2 separate regions of the Homo sapiens genome follow, and region 1 is linked to region 2. The links come from fine-mapping of genetic effects on gene expression. A gene starts in region 2. The other region holds a variant in brackets. All regions are shown on one strand. Distances are between the middles of the regions. Region 1 overlaps MYCBP2 (MYC binding protein 2). Region 2 holds the start of FBXL3 (F-box and leucine rich repeat protein 3).

Region 1 (10,968 bases), 39 kb after region 2:
TACAGCACTGACAGATTATAGGAGGAAGAAATCAACTATGAGAAAAGAAGGTCATGCTCTTGCAGCATGCAAAGTCACCCTAGAATTAAATTGATTCGGATTTACACCTAACTCCAACACTGGAAGTTCGTGTCAGTCAAATGGCAGACTGCAGATGTGCTGAAAACTGAGAATTTGTAAGATTCAACATAACTTTGAACTAGGAATATACAAGATTTACTTTAGAAAAGCAGCAAAATGAAAACTATGTTTTAGAGATAAAAATACATTTAACATACATAGGTTACCTTTTGTTTTATGTCTATTCATTTTTGTTAATTATTTTATTGCTATCAATGGAAACAGTACCATTCACAACACCTTCAGAAGCATTAGGTCTACAAAAACCTCTAAATATCATAAAATCATACAACCTTATAATAAATAGAGATCTTAGTGATCATCTAGTGCAGCAATTTTTATTGTGGGGCAACAACTAGCAGAACTAGAAGGGAATTATCAATAGAAATGTATTTTATCTATGGAGCCCCATTAGTTGTGATCCTCTCACTTTATAAATGAAGTCAATGAGTTCCAGAGGTTAAGTGACTTGCTCGACACCACACAGCTAGTTAGTGGCAAATCAGGTTTCTTGACTTTTGGTCTAATGCTCTCTTCACCATAGAACACTCTATATATTTAGTAAATATATAGATCAATGATGTCATAATTAAACATCAGAATATCACTCAAAATTATTCACAGTTTAATCAGTTGGCACGGTTTAATCTTTTTTTGTGGGTTTTAAAGGCATGGCTCAATCTTTAAACCTTTTACCTGTGTGTTCTCGGAATTCCACCATTGCCTTCATTGTTTTAGAATCTGCCAGTGCCATCAACCAGAACAATTTGGTTCTACCACAACCTTCATGAAGGTCAACCTTTATAGCTTCTTCTTCTTCTTTGAAGACCTATTATTTCATTAAAGAACAGGGAAAAATATGCTTATTTATCACTCTGAAAGGGAGAGTATAAAATTTAATTATTCAATAATAATAATGGCTTTCATTTAAGCACTCTAAGAAGTTTTGAATATTTCCAATCTTCTCTTTAATCTTCACAGCAGTCCCTTTTTTATAAATGGAGAAATTAAGTGTTTCTAAGGATAAAACAACTTGCTATTTATAGATGGTAAGCGAGACAGCTGTGAACTCAACCAAGGTCTTTGATTCCAAAGTCCACTTTTTCCCCCTACTACACAAAGCCTCTTTCACACATTTATTTCAAAATTCACTGAACATATTTTATGCTCCAGAGACAAAAATCTTCACCTGTCTTTGATGAGTTTTGGTTCTTCGATGAAGGTGAAGGAATCTGTCACAGTCTGTACATAAATTTCCACAGACATTGCATAAAATGATTGCTGCAGTTTCACCATCATCATGGTTATCACACATAGGCTAAAATAAGACATTTCCACGTTACTTAGATTAACAAGCAAGTCTCAGACTCTCATACAAATTGAATATAATTTATTTACAAAAATAAACCGTTATTCGGAAGTCTATTAAGAATTTAGAATCTGAATATTAAACAGAATTATTGCAAATGTACTTAACTATAAAAATCTCTCAAAACTCCAAATCCAATCATTAATGTGCTTTGCAGGTTCAATGATTAATACAATGAACAGGTATACTTTGTTACTTAGAGACTTAAGAAATGTCTGCCCCATTATATATCTAAACATTCTGTATGCCAAAGGAAGAAACTGTTTATTTTTGAAACTTGAACATTAATAAGAAAATGGTGAAAGGGCCTATATAAAGTTTTCCTTTCTAGTGAACTTAAAGATACCCATCAAACCTACTTAAGTATATATGTGAACAGGTGGTGTGTCATGTTGCCTGTGTTATTGCTTTATTTCCTTCCTACCATAAGACTGATTACATTTTAGTAAAATATCTAGTCACTAAATCAGACTCTGGCTAAAAATAAATTTTGATATGATGCAAACATGACTCAGAGAAGAAGAAAGCTCTTTAATATACTTAAATAAAAGCCCCTAAAGTTTCCATATACTATGAAGTAGGGACTCTCTGAAATAGACTTGTGAGATGAACTTGGCCGAAGGGACACAATCTTTCAAGAGATCCACTAACTGTTTATGTTGATGTGTTTTTTGTTTGTTTGTTTGTTTTTAAGCTAAGCTAAAGCTTACTGTAAAGGAAAGCAAGATAAATTCTTACAAAATTCTGATCTTACCATTTGTTTTTGTTGTCCATCCTTTCCCATCCATCTCCCCGAGGAGAGACGATCTACGTGGTCCTGATCAAGAACACATAGGGATGCGAGAGCAAGCCAGAGCTGTTGAAAGGGAAGGCTGTTACACCACTGAATTTTTAGGAAAGACTTATGAAATGCTGACTGTGACACATCACAACAGCTCAATAAATGCTGGCTGATTTTGAAAATACATAGATACTCAGTGGCACTCAAGTCTTCCTGATGTGGTAGCAGGCATACACGATCACTGTCCTATGTGCCATGCACACAGGAGGCACTCAGATATCTACTGAACAAGTGACTGTTTCTCTGATGAACCACCCTGTCTTCTATCTGACAAATAAAATTATCCTTTATTGGTCTACTATGTAAACAACATATGAATAAATGAATTGGCATATTTAATATTTACTACTAATGTCTTCTGAATATTTTTCCATTTAGTATCATTAAATGCCAAAGAAGGTGGTACAGCAACTGCTAAATTGTGTACAGTCCCATGAGTAGTCAGGTACACATTAAATCCTTCTAGATAATAAAAGTTCCTCAGAAGTCTTTGTTGCCCCTTGTTGCCCCAGAAAGCCTAATACTATACTTGGTGCACTTTGTCAGAAATACATACATGTCTAAAAGCTTTAGAAAACTGTTCTCCAAAATAGGGCCGGGCACAGTGGCACATGCCTGTAATCCCAGCACTTTGGGAGGCCAAGGTGGGTGGATCACCTGAGGTCAGGGGGTTATGACCAGCCTGACTAACATGGTGAAACCCAGTCTTTACTAAATACAAAAAAAATTAGCCAGGTGTGGTGGTATATGCCTGTAATCCGAGCTACTTGGGAGGCTGAGACAGGAGAATCGCTTGTACCTGCAGGCGGAGGCTGCAGTGAGCCAAGATCGTACCATTGCACTCCAGCCTGGGCATCAAGAGTGAAACTCTGTCTCAAAAAAAAAAAAAAAAAAAAAAAGACAACTGTTTTCAGAAATAGTTAAAAATTTCTGAGGCTTAAAGGGTAAGCTTCAGTTTTATATAGAATGATATATCCCCTCATTAATGAAGAATAGAAAATGACTTAACTAGCTCAACTCTAAGAAGTGCATGTGAGTGTTATTGGATACAGAAAGCAAGAGATGTTAAAATAGGGACAGAAAAATAGAAAAAGAAATAATGCATGCAAGGAGGAAGGGGAATGCAGACTGAAAGAAAGCAACACATGAGTGGTAGGAAAGGATTACTGTCAAAAATACCTATTTCAGGTGTCACAGTCAATAATAGCAAGATAGCATAAATTGACTTTTTCCGCCCTAGGGATATATAGTTTATCTTCTTCAGATTTCTGAGGATTAACCTAAGCAATTTTTACCAGCATTCACTTCTTCCTAACGTTGTCAGACTGCCCTCCTTCAAGGAAATCTCAAATCTCTTCTGGAAGTATATGGGACATGAAATCTAGCAGGTTAAAACTTACTATAAATGTGTCATCTGAAGAATGCAATCTCATTTCCTCAAAGATTTCCACCCTGACCCTGCCCTGGACAAGCACTTCTTGCTTTTTAGAAGTAAGACCTATAAATCCTGTAAGTAAGTTACAGGGCTCTACATTAGGAACAACCAGGCATAGGCAGGGGTCTTGTCTCCAAAGGACCTTCGGTCTATCACAGCATAATGCTGGCACTAAACTTACTGTGGTAAACTACAGCAAACAGATCATTAGAAAGACAACACGCAAACAATGTACAATGTAATTAGCCTTTTCTAACCAGTGTACCCTTGGCTTCCTAAACAATAACAAAAACAAGTGACACAGAACACATAACAGTGAGAAGTAACGACTAGTTCATAATATAAAAGCCCTTTATACTTTTTCAATAAATACGGTATTTGGTTAAAAAATAATTATGTTGACTTAGTGATTAAAATTTGTTTAAATCTATTACTAAAAAAGAACACGCAATGATACACACCAAATTTAAAACAAAACAAAACAAAGCAAAACCTACTCTAGTTGTTGCAATACATCTCACTGGAGACCTAAATTCTTCTTCCATCTTGGTCAAGGCAATGATGGTTTCTGCAATAGCATTTTTTGTCACTCGGGACCAAGCTTCTGACAGATGACCCTATTGAGCAGAACAGAGTATTTTAATAAGTGACCAGAAATGTATTACCATAGTAAACTCTTTTTTCTTAAATAACATCTCCTATCAAAGGAAATATTTGTTTTTAGTGAGACCATGGAATTTTAGATTATGGGCACAAACTTTTGAACTAAAATTTCTTCGTGATCCTATGGAAAATTCAACTTCTAATCATCATTTTGATATTTAAAAATAAATAAATAAAAAATTAAGTTCTCAATACTCTTTTCCTGGAAATCAAGGGCAATTACTCTCACATCTGATAAAAACATAACAGAAATACTAAGGTTATCTATGTTTGAGAAGTTTGTCACTTAGCATAAAATTTACACAGTGAAGCTAACTGCTTTAGATGAGTATTACAGGAACCTAAAATATAAACAGGTTCAAACTGCAACTACCTTTATTTGCTACCTTGATTTGTAATGAACAAACATTTAACTATCATATAATTTAGGTGTTCCTAAATATTACTCCTAAATATTTTAATTCAATGAACACCCTGAGAAAGTCTGTTTGCCACAGAGGTTGAGAAAATATCCACGCTGTTGGGAAAAGTGATAGAACTTCATCTTTCCCCCAGAAAATCCTCCCACTTCTCATATCCACATGATTTAAGGGGCAGTTCAATTCCTCCTCCTTCTCCAAGCTGCCTTCTATTCCTTCTGACTCTACATTCCATACTATCTTGTCCTTCTCAGGCTGCCCTCCTAGAAATAATACAATGTGTGGAAAATGACAAGGAGCAACTAATCAGAGCCAGGCATTCTGTAAAGTAACTCCCTGTCCTCCACACTCCCAGATCTCCTTTGGAAGCCACCATCTTAAGACAGAGGGTATATGACATTAATAAAGAAGAATAAAGGGTTTAAAAACCATGAGGACTGAGGAGAATGAGAAACTTCCACTTTCGAGAGCTCTCTTCCTCTTTTTTTCCTTTAGGTTTTTTGAATCAAGTTCTTTCTTAGGGTCTGAAAGAGCATATTTTATTTTATTAGATTTTAAAGTCACGTAACAATTCCCACACAAATTAACTGGAAAATTTGAAATGAACATGGTTTACATAAATGACAAATTATCACTCACTGAAAAGACAAACAGCATGATAGTTAACATACTACAAATAGTCTTTAAGTAAAGTTACACTAATCTACATCTCCTATCAATTCAGCAGAGTAAGCTGTTTTGTGTCAGCTTCCTGCCGCACTTCACTGCCAAAACAGAAGAATGGGAACTTACTGCTGCCATATCCTTGATAAGTTTAATGATGATCTCTGAGATCTGGGTAGGGGTTGAGCCCTTCATCCACCAATGACTTTCACCTCGTCGGAGATAACTACAAGAAAAATTAGCACTTAAAAAGCCAATAAATTATCAGTAGTAGTAACAAATGAAAAAGATGAAAATGTTATTTCAGAATGCAGCATTTTAGATTTTTAAGTGACTGAATCAATTAAAACATTTAAAAAGAAAATTCATCAAACCATTACCCCAAATCCCAAGACAGCAGTTAAGGTTATTTGAGTTCCCTTTCAAGTATTTCTCTGTTTGCACATTATTTCTGTGTGCATCTTTTAGAAGTACAGTCCAGGGACCACACACGACTTATTTCTAGGGCACATGCGGATAATG[T/C]GGAGCTTAACCGGAATATAAATTCACTGTATCACTAAGCACACTACTATTTAGTTCAGCTGACTTTTTTCCTAGCAAGACTACAGGAAAGAAGTGATACAATGATTAACATTCTGATGTTATCTGCATATTGTCATGGATTGGCTCTACAAGTAGCACTGTTCAGATGTCTCTAATTCTCTACTGTTACACACAATTACAGAACATCCTTGCATATATACCTTGGTGCAAATGCATGAAAGTTTTAGAAGTAGAATTGGTAGGTCAAAAGATATGCATATTTAAAATATAGTTAGATATTATAAACAGATATCCAAAAAGGCTGCAGCAATTTATATGAGATGAAAATGCCTATTTCCTCATAATGTTGCCAAAGCATCAAAGATATTTTGCAATTATTTTAATCTACATTTCTCTGATTAGTAGTGAGGTGTTTTCATTTGTTTACTGGCATTTATAAGTTTTTTTCTGTGAACTGACTACTGGCATTTATAAGTTTTTTTCTGTGAACTGACTGTTCTTGTCATTTATTATTCTTATCAGTTGTTTGCCTTTTTAAAATTGATTTGTAGTCATACTTCTATATTATGCTAACAAGTCATTGTCTATTATATAGGTTTAAGTATTTTTCTAAGTTATTTCCCTATATTTTAAAACATTTAAATATTATCACCTATCAAGTAATTTTCATTTTTATATAGTCAAATCTATAAATATCTTCCTATATGATTTTGGGTTCTGTGTTTTGTTTAAGAAGGTCTTATCAAATTGAAGATTACAAAAATATTCTTCTATAATTTGTCCCAGTACAGTTTTAAAAAGAAATGTACATAAAGCTTTAGTTGACCTGAACTTTACTTTATTCCCCCATATTTATTTCTTTTTATTGTGGCAAAAAAACATATTACCTAAAACTGAAGTTTAATTTTGTATATGGTGAGAGGTAGGTATCTAGAATTTTTTTTAACATGGATATCCAAATATTCTGACATCACATATTCAGCCTACTTTCTATTCCCCACTAATTATAAATGACACTTTTATTATATACATGACCTTTTTAGATATTAGCCAGTTGTTTATGGATTTTATTTGGTGAGTAACCTAACAAGGTAAAATCTGAAATTATGTCTTAAATTTCTGAACAGTAGCTCACTCTATTCTGTTTTGGTACTAAAATAGAGGCAATAACTAACCTGGAATTGAAAATCATCGGAAGAGTAACTGTTGTAACTCCTTTGCCCACAGTGGTACCAGCTGTTCCAGTGATGGTGGTTCCTTTGGCTTTTAGCTGTACAGTGAGTGCTTTGGCAATGCATCCTAGAAACATGTCCAAGATACCCAGCTTATTCCAGTCTCCTTTCTCTGTTGAGTGAATGATATCACTGATATCTGCTGGGGGGAGGGATTTCACTCCTATGATGCTGGCCAGACGACTAGGGGTTACTTCAGGCAAAACTCTTCTTAGTAAAGAGGTTACCTGGTAAGAAAAATAAAATGAGAGAATTCCATGTAAAGACTAATGTTTTAAGGTTTCTTTTATTTCTCTTTTCTTTTTTTAAAGACAGGGTCTTGCTTTGTTGCCCAGGTTGGAGTGCAGTGGAGCAACCACAGCTCACTGCAGCCTTGAACTCCTAGGCTCAAGGGATCCTCCCAGCTTTGCCTCCCAAAGTGCTGGGATTACAGGCATAAGTCACTGTACCCCATCCCAGGCTTCATTTTTTAATGTACCTAACTACCATTCTGTAACTTCAAAATCTTTAAGAAAAGAAATATGATTTAAACACTATTTTACATTTTGTGAAGGAAGAAAATATGATATACATACTATTCAAATGGTAATAGTAGTGGTAATTACTAACCCAAGGCAGCACGAAAAAAAATACCTTTTCTTTCTGGTCAGGGCTAAATGACATTATATATTTCATGGTAATATGGTAATCAGTAGCCAGAATACTCTCTTATCACAACACATTAATAAAATGGAACATATTTTACTATTCTATACTCTCACTATAAACAGTAAAAAAGGGAGTAAAATACAGGCCCCAAACAAAATATAACAAAATACGAAATAAAAATCTATACTTAGGGTCCTTAGATAATTCTCTTTGCATTGCAACTTTTAACAATGTTTCAAGTAACAAAAGCAATGGAAAGGCTGTAGTGTGATCAGTCACCTGTCTCTGGACTCTAGGAGAGGCTGTGTGAAGCAGCGAGAAGAGATCCTGAAGCAGGGTTAGCTGTTGAGCCAGATATTGCCGGCCAACGTTAGAGCCACTCAGTGCTAAAACCATAGAGAGCAGCTCAAAGCAGTAGGCATCAGAGGAGGCATCTTCATCATTTGGCTGAGAATTGGCATTTTCTTTGCTTGATATAGCATGTTCCCATTCTTCACGGACTCTGGTAGCTTCCATGCGAATAGCTTGGACAATATGAGCACACACCTATTTAAAGTTAACACAGAACATGTAAAAATATAGGGTTAGTTTGATTTACTACTCCTAGCAAAACAAGCAAACAAAAGAATAAGACAAGAATGTAAATTGATACTCAATTTAATACTATTCTCCCAGTTAATTCTCCATCATATGTCATTCTCTTAACTCATCTAAGAAACAAGTAAAGCTAAGGGAGCCACAATAAAAATGGAAATATTTAAATCAACTACTATGTGCAAACTGATTATATGCAAGTTATTAATGCCTATGCTTACAGTTTAGCACGTCAAAAACCAATCACCATATTTTATCACTGAAGGCACTTTTTCTCATGGTTTACCATTATGTTCATAAGGTGCTTTATAGCTGATAAGATTCACAATACTGAAATTATACATGACATTTTACAATTGAAAGCATCTAAGATTCAATGAAACACTGCTAGAAAGATAAAGCAAAAATAAATTCATGTTGTAGTTCATTGAAAAGAATAATAGTGTAGAAAGTTAGAATAGGGCTGGGTGCCGTGGCTCACGCCTGTAATCCCAGCAATTTGGGAGGCCGAGGCGGGCGGATCATGAGATCAGGAGATCGAGACCATCCTGGCTAATATGGTGAAATCCCGTCTCTACTAAAAATACAAAAAAATTACACCTGTAATCCCAGCAGTTTGGGAGGCCGAGGCAGGTGGATCATGAGGTCAGGAGATCGAGACCATTCTGGCTAACACGGTGAAACCCCGTCTCTACTAAAAATACAAAAATATTATGCCTGTAATCCCAGCACTTTGGGAGGCCGAGGCGGGTGGATCACGAGGTCAGGAGATCGAGACCATCCTGGCTAACACGGTGAAACCCCGTCTGTACTAAAAAAAAAAAAAAAAAAAAAAAAAATTAGCCAGCCGTGGTGGCAGGCATCTGTAGTCCCAGCTACTCAGGAGGCTGAGGCAGGAGAATGGTGTGAACCCAGGAGGCGGAGCTTGCAGTGGGCCGAGATCGCACCACTGCACTCCAGCCTGGGCAACAGAGCGAGACTCCCTCTCGAAAAAAAAAAAAGTTAGAATAATAGGTTAATTTAAAATCAATATTTTATTTGACTTTTGAAGTGATATTTTTATGTTATGTAGCACCCCATTATATGAACAATATAGCGCTATTTCCTCACCTGGTTATATTTAAAAATATTAACACTGGTATAGTTAACACTGTTAATTGCTCAGCCAACACACAGAAGAATGGGGGAAAAGAAATATGGGAAATGCAAATCAAATCTGATATAGCTGGGTATTTGACACCAAATAAAAAATCTACCCATAACAAATAGCAGCAAGGTAAGCAAGTTTTCATAAGTAAAATCTTTAAAATGATGAAGGTATGCCAAAATACTCATTCCTCTCTAAAAAATGGCAGGCACATTCTGCAGGACCTATAAAAGGGCGAGCATAAAAAAGCCTTCATAAATTTTTCAAAATACTTTATACCAAGCTCATCCAACCTGCAGCCGGGGGACTGCCTGTGGCCCAGGATGGCTTTGAATGTGGCCCAACACAAATTCATAAACTTTCTTAAAGTATTAGGAGATTTTTTTTTCTTGCAATTTTTTTTTTAGTTCATCAGCTATTGTTAGCCTTAGTGTATTTTATGTGTAGCCTAAGACAATTCTTTTTCTTCAAATATGGCCCAGGGAAGCCAAAAGATTGGACATCCCTGCTTTATACCCTAATAACAAACAAACAGACAAACAAACAAACACACACACACACACACACAAAACTAATGAAGACAATGAAATAGCTGTTAACCAACCTGTTTTTGTAAGTTAGTCAGCTTACTCCTGCTGAATATGATTCCAACCATATGTTCTTTCAGGTCAGCATCTGATGTTGCCTTTACATAGAAAAAGAAAAAAAAAAAAAAGAATGAAGTGGTCTCTTTAAATAAAATTTGTATATGTGATATTTCAAAGTAACTTGAGAAATAATTTTGTGTATATATTTTTAAAGTAAATTTATTTTAAATTGAGGCTTATAATACTAAGACAAAGGATAAAGTTTGAAATAAAAAGAACAAAATCTCAGAACTTAGGAAATTCAGAGAAGTATATTCTCCTTTCACAAATTTCTTTAATGTAGTCAATTTGAGTAGCTTTGATTAAATCTATTTCTAAATTGTAAACATTATTAGTTCACATCCCACATTTAATTGTTTGAAGAACAATCCAGGAAAATAACATTTGTTTAAAAGGAAAGTGTCCTAACAAACCTCTGTGATGATAGTGGTCTTAAATTAAGCTATCGGAACACCAAGTCATCAAAGAAATGTATCATAAGGAAAAATATAAAGGCTAAAATTTTATAGAGCTTATTATGTGCACGCTGTTCTTCTAAGTGCCACATATGTATATATGTGTGTGTATATATATATATGCATGCACGTGTGTGCACACGCACACACACACACACACACACACACACACACACACACAAATCTTATCTA
Region 2 (8,000 bases):
ATGCCTGATGATCTGAGGTGGAACAGTTTCTTCCTGAAATCACCCCCTGCCACGGACAGGCACTGGGCTATGCTATGTGTTACTGCCAGACATTTCTTAACTCCGCCTAAAATAAGCAAAACCACCCCTACTATGAATTGTTTGGTCTGGAATGTAGCTGCTTCTTCAAACACATCACTTAATATTGCACTGTTTTCCCCAAGTTGTGTTTCTGAATTATACCTATTTGTTTATTCTATGTATTCTTAGCACTTTCATTCCATTAGTTTCTTTGAAAGATAGTTTTTTCATGGCAAAACAGTATTATGGCTAAAGAGAATGGGCTCTGGAACCAAGCTCCTTGGGTTTGAATTCTGGCTCTACCTCTCACTGGCTATGTGGCTTTGAGCAAATTACTTGATATTCCTGTGCTTAAATTTCCAAAATTAGTTTAATAAAACAGGGTTTCTGTGAGAAATGCAATACTATTAAGGCTTTTCAAAGGGGAGATACGACTGTTGAACTGTTGAGATATGACTGTTGTGTAGGAAAGCAGTCCAGCATTAACGACATTAAAGTACACAACATGCTAAAAACCAGGGTTACTACCCAGAAGGCAGAGAATGATTCATTCATTCATTCCGTTCACTCATTCATTCATTCCGTTCACTCATTCATTCAAGATGGGGTCTCGCTCTGTCACCCAGGCTGGAGTGCAGTGGCACGATCATGGCTCACTGCAGCCTCGACCTCCTGAGATCAAGCAATCCTTCCACCTCAGCCTCCAGAGTATCTGCATGCACCACCACACCCGACTCTATTTTTGCTTTAAAATGGAGAGAGAGAGAGTGTGTGTGTGTGTGTGTGTGTGTGTGTCAGAGAGACAGGGCAAGTGAGCTTGTGTACGAGAAAACACACCCTGGAAGTAGACTCACTGAATTATTATAGTAACCAACAGTAGACGGCAGATTACAGGTAATTTTTTTTTCTTGCAAACATCTCTTCCCTTTTTATGTTTTACACATTTTCTTTTACTATCAATGCATTACCGTGTAATCGGACTTTTTGGAAAAGTATAGCAGGCTCTAAACTAAATGGCTGCAGACCACTCACTGGTAGTTACTTAGTTCAGAGCCTGTAATACTTTTGTTTCTAGAGAACAGTTCTGGCAGGGTAGTGGTTTCGACCTAAACTTGGGGTCACAATCTTTCAGAAAGATGGCTTGTTGCTCCAACACTCCTCTGGCCTATCAGCATAAAAGAATTTCTCATTCCTGTGTGAGATGAAGGATATGCATATGCATTACTGTAAAACAAATGTTTCTGCAGACTTTCTCCACCCAGTACCTCGCAAAACTTGTGAAAGAGGATTGAGGGCTGGAGAGTAAAAAGAGAATGGCAGAGGCCTCTGACCTTAATGCCATGAAAGTCAGTCAAAGACGTCTTAGCATATGTGCAATAAACTGCCTATTCTTCACTGCTCCTATTCCCAACTATGTGAATAAAATATATTACGTATACCCTACTGATCAGGGAGAGAACAAGAGAGAAAATAGAATGACAGAGGTGACAGCAAGAAGGTAGTCTGATGGAAGACTGGAAATTATGTGTGACTTGAGATTAGTTTTTTTTTAATAAGTTTAGAGAAAAGTGTATAGTCTACACTGTAATCTTTAATATTAAGTCTCTTCTAATAATAATCCCTCACTAGAGGCTGAGATAACACTGTTATTATGACCCATTTTTCTGCTTTAACTTACCCTGAAGGCTTACTTTAATTTTAGTATATAAAATTTGGGTCAAAGAACAAAGTGTTTGCTATCCAGAGCTTATAATTTCTCTTCTGACCACCTAAAACTACTCACAATTTTGAGATACAGAGATTCAAAAAAGAATGACAGTCTTTGCAATTTCTACACCTTATTATAGAATACTGATTGCCTGTTTCTGGAGAACAATCTTCTAAAACCAGAACTAGACAACTTAAAGACGGAATGATTCATTTTACTTTAGAGTATATGGATATATAAACAAAAATAAAATGGTAGCCTTATTCACATAATAGTCTTTGCTAATAAATACTTTGCTGGTCCTAAAAATAGAAACTTTCTTTTGTCTATTATAGTACTGTTTTAAATAAAATGTACTTAAATACCTTTCCAAGTTCAGGTTAAAGAAGTTGACAAAATTTTTTTTAACAGTATGCAACACTAAGGGACAGTATCTCTTGATCTAGATATAAAAACACTATATGATCACCAAAGCCTATTTTAAGAACTTACCAGTTTACAAATAGCTGAATTAAGTCTGTTAATTGTCATACGTAATATGTCTATGTTACAATTATAGTGCATTAAGCAATTGAAAAAAATGTAAGGCCAAATTCCAATAAAAATATCCTCTGCACTATCCTCATTTGTGCATGAAAATAACAGAAGTGAGTGGACACTTAAAATTTTAAATGTCAATTTTTCCAAGTTGATTTCATTTATGTATGAAAAAATTTACACTACTTTAATAGTATCTTATTAAATCTATTTACACATGAAACTCTGCTATACATAAAATTAAACATCTCAGAGCATCTTCCAGCCTGCAAATAATTTACATCAATGGACCCTATAATTCCTACTTTTGTCAAAGTGAAAACACCTCCTATATTTGAAAAGAAGTGTGGAGAACCAAGCTGTACTATAAAACGTCAATGAGACATTCTAGACTCTAGAAATCTAGAGCACCAAAACTAGGCCTCTTCAGGGCTCTGGCAGTTTAATTTCCTGCAAAGCTTCTAGGCCCCAAATAATGCAACTTAGGCCACCACAGCTTTTGGTGAGGGACTGATATGACTACAAACTGCTAAATAGCAAACTACTGAGGAAAGACCACAGACTAGCTGAGCAGCACAAGGAGTTAGTGAACTAACTCTATGTTCCATAAACTTTCCAGGTGGGCGCGGTGGGCCACGCCTGTAATCCCAGCACTTTGGGAGGACAAGGCGGGCGGATCGCTTGAGCTCAGTAGTTTGAGACCAGCCTGGGCAACACGATGAAACCTGTCTCTACAAAAATTAGCTGGGCATGGTGGCCCATGCCTGTAGTCTCAGCTACTAGGGAGCCTGGGGTGGGAGGATCGCTAGAGCCGAGATCGCGCCACTGCACTCCAGCCTGGGTGACAAAGTGAGTCCTTGTCTCAAAAAAAAAAAAAAAAAAAAAAAAACTTTGAAAGAAGCAACTTCATTAGGTGAAGACCGGAAGTGAACAGCTAGCCGTGTGCATCGTTGTATTAGGCACTTTTACACTGGGCATGCAATAATTTTAAATGCTCATTTGTAGTTAACTCTAAAAAGCCTATTTTGGCATCACAGTTCCTTTCTGTTCTGCTTTTACTAATATCAAACTAATATGCATTCTTTGGCTGAACTACAAGAATAAAACACTATAAAGAGGTTAACTCACAACTAAATGCTTAGAGAGCGCACAGTGGCGAAAATCTGTCTACAGGTCATATAGATAGATAGATAACTGATAGTTGATGGTATTTTTATAAATATTTCAGAGATAACAGAAACTAAGTTACTTTTTTTTCAAGTTAGAAAAGGAGGATTCTAATTAAAAAATCTGGGTCACTCAACTGGATATCATTAGCAACGACAAAATAAAAATGATCTCTCTCACCTCTCAGCTTGGAGATACAGACCATTTACTGGGCTGCTTCCTGACCCCTGTCTGCAACCCCACCTAAAGGACTGCCCACGCCAAAGGCAGACGCGAATCCGCTCAACACAAGTTGACCAAGTTTTTCGCCTGGCTAAGCGGCAGGGGCGTCCCCTCCTCCCTGCGCCACCTCCCCACCGACTGGCTTCCCCTGACATTTCTCATGCGCCCCACCCTGGGCAGTTTGCTTTGACATTTCAGTGCCTCATTGCTCAAGCTACCAGCACGGGCGTAGCCGACGCCGGGAGAGCCCACAGAGTGCGAGCTCCATGGTGCCTGTCACCAGCCCCCGCCAAGGGTCATAAAGCCTGGCAGGAGCCGCGGCGAACCCGGGAGCGGCGGCGTCGCGGGCAGGCTGCAGGCGGCCGCCGCACACGCACCACGCCTTGTTGACATGTTTGGAAGCAGGCACGGCGGGGAAACGCCCCCAAGCAAGCTCCAAGGTCTGGGTGCCGCGCCCCGCGCCCCGCCCGGCACTCCTGAGGAGCGGCCCGCGCGCGCCCCGGCCCCCGCGCCCCCCCCCACCCCACCCCACCCCGGCCCGCCCACAGACGGTCCGCGGTCCCTCCCCGGCTCCGCCGTCGCAGCGGGGCTCGGCCCTGCCCCTCCGCCGTTACCTGCTGCCGGGGGCGGCTTCCCCCACACACCACCCCGTGCTCCGGGGACGGCGGCGGCTGCAGGTCCCGCGGCTCTCACATGAGGCGCCCCTGGCCCCCCGCTTCGCGCTCCCGCAGCCGCGGCCCCCCGCGCTCCGCCCGCATCCGAGGCGCTGGTCCCGCGGAGGGCGCCAACGCGGCTCCACCTTTGCGGCTCTGGCTGCCCAGAAAGAAGCTTTCCTTCTCAGTCCCGCGCTGTCTGTGTTCAGGGATCCCCGGCGCCGCGAGAGACTACCTCAGCGAGCGGCTGCCACCGCGTAAGCTTCCTGCACCTGGGCCACAAACAGCGAGTCTAAAATGGCGCCCAGGGCTCGCGGCCGCGCGCTTCCCTGGCGCGTCCCCGCCCAAGGGGGCGGGAAGGGGGCGGGGGGGGGGCGGAGCCCGGCGGGAGTAGGGCCGCGCCCAAGCGGGAGCGCGCGCTGCGGCCGCCCCAGTCTCCTTGCTGTGGGACGAGCCTCTGCCTTCCTGCCAGAGATGTGACTCCCGCTTGAAGGGGATTTTTTTTGTTGTTTTGAGATGGAATGTGGGAGGGCTGAAGCTAGCTATATGTGGAAGAGACTATCTGTGGCTGAAACTGGAAGGTTTAGGGAGGTGGAGCAGAAAAAAGAAAGGAAGGAGTCTCGCCGGAGCCTGCTGGGGACCGCGGCCCGCGGGTGGCCGCCCCGGATGCCTGAAACCGAGGAGTTAAATACAGTCTCCGAAGACCCGCGCATCGATGTGCATAAGTGGTGCTTAAAAGATGCCAAGGAAATGTACCAGAATAGTGAGAGTATTAACGCTGGGATTGCACATGGTTTTTGTTTTTCAAATATTTGTATTTCCCAATATTTCTAAAGTGGCTTTTATCATTAGAGTTATTACATTTTAAAAACGACATTTGCTTTATGAAATAGAGTCCTGAAATTTGTAAATAGCTTTTGAAACGCAATGGGGAAAGTAAAGGATTACAAAGCTGCTGAAAAGAAAACCTCTGGTGAATCCTTTTGTAAATCAAGGCATCTTTGTAACTGCTACCTAGTTGACTTGTTTTAAAGTTTGGATTTTTTGATACTGCGTTTTCTTACAGTTAGAAACATTCTTAGGTGCAATATCATTAAGTTGAATCATGCGCCATTCCTCTCTACACCTCCAAAAAAAAAGAGAGAAAGTAGTTTTCCATTCAAAGATGTCTTAGAACACTCAGACCCATGTATAAGACACTGAAAAGCAGTGGTGCCCAGGGAGCTCTCCGTTCTTCCCGTTTTCTCAAGAAATTGAGCTAGGAAGCCATGTATAAAGTTACGTCGAAGTTCAGTGTGAGGCCAGGAGTGGTACAGGCTTATGTCTGTAATCCCAACATTTTGGGAAGCCAAGGCAGAAGGGTTGCTTGTGGTCAAGAATTGGAGACCAGCCTGCGCAATATGTCCAGACTCTTGTCTCTACAAAAAAATAGAAGAGTAATAATTTTAAAAAATCAGACGAGCTTGGTGTAATCCCGGCTACTACTCAGGAGGCTGAATCGAGAGGATGGCTGGAGCCCAGGAGTAGGAGGTTACAGTGACCTATGATGTCACCACTGCACTTCAGTCTGGGTGAGAGAGTGAGACTGTTTCTATAATAAAATGAATTCAATGTGGGGAAATGCCAGTGTTGTTTGTTCGGTGTTTTTTAAGGGCCTGTCAGCTGTCAGATCACTGAATCAAACTGTACAAAGCCTCTAGTAGCATAAGAGTGTGGATTTGCCTGAGCTGCAACATTTGTTTAGGTCCCTCAGTGACTGGATGATGAGGAACAATAGGAAGTTCTAAGAAGGACAATGATAATTATTAAGGAAAAACAAATAAGTCAAATACAGGCCCATTTATTTAAAGTTGGGTGAACAGTATAAATGATCAGCAAAATACATTAAACCAATTCAGTAAACATGATGAGCATAGGTTGCATTACGTTAATATTGTATCACATTACGGTTATATCACATTCCAATCATAGTTCTTTTTTTTCTTTTTTCGCCATTATGATCTATTCTCCTCCTAAACAAGACAAGGACCTTGGCACACTTGACCTATTGAATACCCCTTTTCTTCCCTGTTATTGGCAAATATTTTATTTCACCTCATTTTTTTTGAAAAAAAACGTTTATTTTTTAATCAGTCAGTACTTATTTACATTTATCAATTGTATCATCAAGATCAGTGGCATGGTAGGTGGGAGAAAGGATGAGTGTGGAGCACATTGATCCAACTGGGAAAAATAATTTATTACTGACCCTGTTTGGAATTGCCAATGCATGTGGTAATAAAAAGCAGATGAACAATTAGTCTCTTTATTATTGTTTTAAATTATCCACAGACAATGTACCCCCTCCACCACGTAGAATGGTGTAGACTATTCCCACACCACCCCAGCCTTGGTACACCAATGATCAGGATAGATTAGATTATGTTGCAGTAGTTCCTTAAATACCATCTTGTAATTCCTCGTTTTTGATGACCTTTACAGTTTTTAGGAGTACTGCTTTAGTATTTTTGTAGAACGTCCCTCAATTGGGGTTTGTCTTAGGTTTTTTTCTTATAATTACATGGGGACTATGGATGTTTTAGAAGGAAAACTACAGAGGTATAAAGTACCATTCTCATCACATCATATCAAGGGTACATCTATTAATACGACTTATCCTTGTTGATGTCAACATTAATCAGAGGTTGAGATCAAGTTATTCTACTTAAAGTTACCCTTTTCCCTCTCTTTTTGTACTGGAAGAAAGTCACTATGTGCAGCCAACACTGAAGAATGTGGATTTACCTGAACTGCAACATTTCCTTGAGAGGGGAATGTCTATTTAAATTATTAAAACTTTTCTGTCTTGGGAGGTGTATCTACATATCTCTTAATTGTATATGTTTACTTTTCTGTCTGTAATTTCTGTAGATCTGTCTTCAAGTCACTAATTTAGTCTATTTAGTCTTTGCTAAGACTACCTTTGCCTGCGTTTTTCGTTTCTAAAAGTTTTATTTGGTTCTTTTTCATATCTACCTGATCTTTCTTGATACTCTTTTCACTTTGTAATTTCTTTTTTTCTTAAATTGTTTTAATCCTATGAAATAATTGGGGGTCTAATCATGATATGTGTCAATGTTTGTTCATGGTGGGTTGTTCCTCATGTATTTTATAATTTTGGATTGTGAGTTCATCTTCCGTACAACTTTAGCTGCAGGAATTTTGTGCAACAGGCAGAAGCTGGAAGGGGAGGAGATTGTTAGTGAGTGCTGGAAAGACAATAAGGAATTGTTAATGGAGTCCAGAGAAATCAGGATATCTTTAGATATCTTTCATATAATAATGGCAAGCCCAGGGAAACATTTGTCTATGGCAACATGGAAAGTAGAGAAATGCATTTATTTAATTGTTGGACTTGGCTAAAGAAATTTCCAAGCAGGCTGGCTGCAGTGGTTCACGCCTCTAATCCCAGCACTTTGGGAGGCCAAAGTAGGCGGATTGCTTGAGCTCAGGAGTTCAAGACCAGCCCAGGCAACATGGCGAAACCTTGTCTCTATTAAAAATACAAACAAATAGCTGGGCGTGGTGGCATGCACCTGTAGTCCCAGCTACTCAGGAGGCTGAGTTAGGAGGATTGCTTGAACTTGGGGATGGAGGCTGCAATGAGCTGAGAC

The links. PIP is the estimated chance that this variant, and not a neighbour inherited with it, causes the effect. A credible set is the group of variants that fine-mapping cannot tell apart.
Region 1: its variant is the best candidate, but not a certain one, in a credible set for the expression of FBXL3 in whole blood (INTERVAL, PIP 0.83).

Annotation. Positions count from the first base shown.
Region 1 is chr13:77,060,353-77,071,320 of GRCh38, forward strand. It overlaps MYCBP2 (MYC binding protein 2), which reads right to left. Exons shown (of 83, transcript NM_015057.5): 69 at 10,279-10,359; 70 at 8,213-8,479; 71 at 7,229-7,512; 72 at 5,640-5,736; 73 at 4,263-4,382; 74 at 2,244-2,345; 75 at 1,310-1,438; 76 at 817-949. Among named protein-coding and RNA genes, the nearest start is that of MYCBP2-AS1, 9.7 kb to the right of the region's middle. The variant T/C (reference allele first, on the strand shown) is at 6,033.
Region 2 is chr13:77,022,519-77,030,518 of GRCh38, forward strand. It overlaps FBXL3 (F-box and leucine rich repeat protein 3), which reads right to left and starts at 4,641. Exons shown (of 5, transcript NM_012158.4): 1 at 4,309-4,641. RefSeq lists silencers at 4,182-4,241, 4,262-4,541, 4,712-4,761.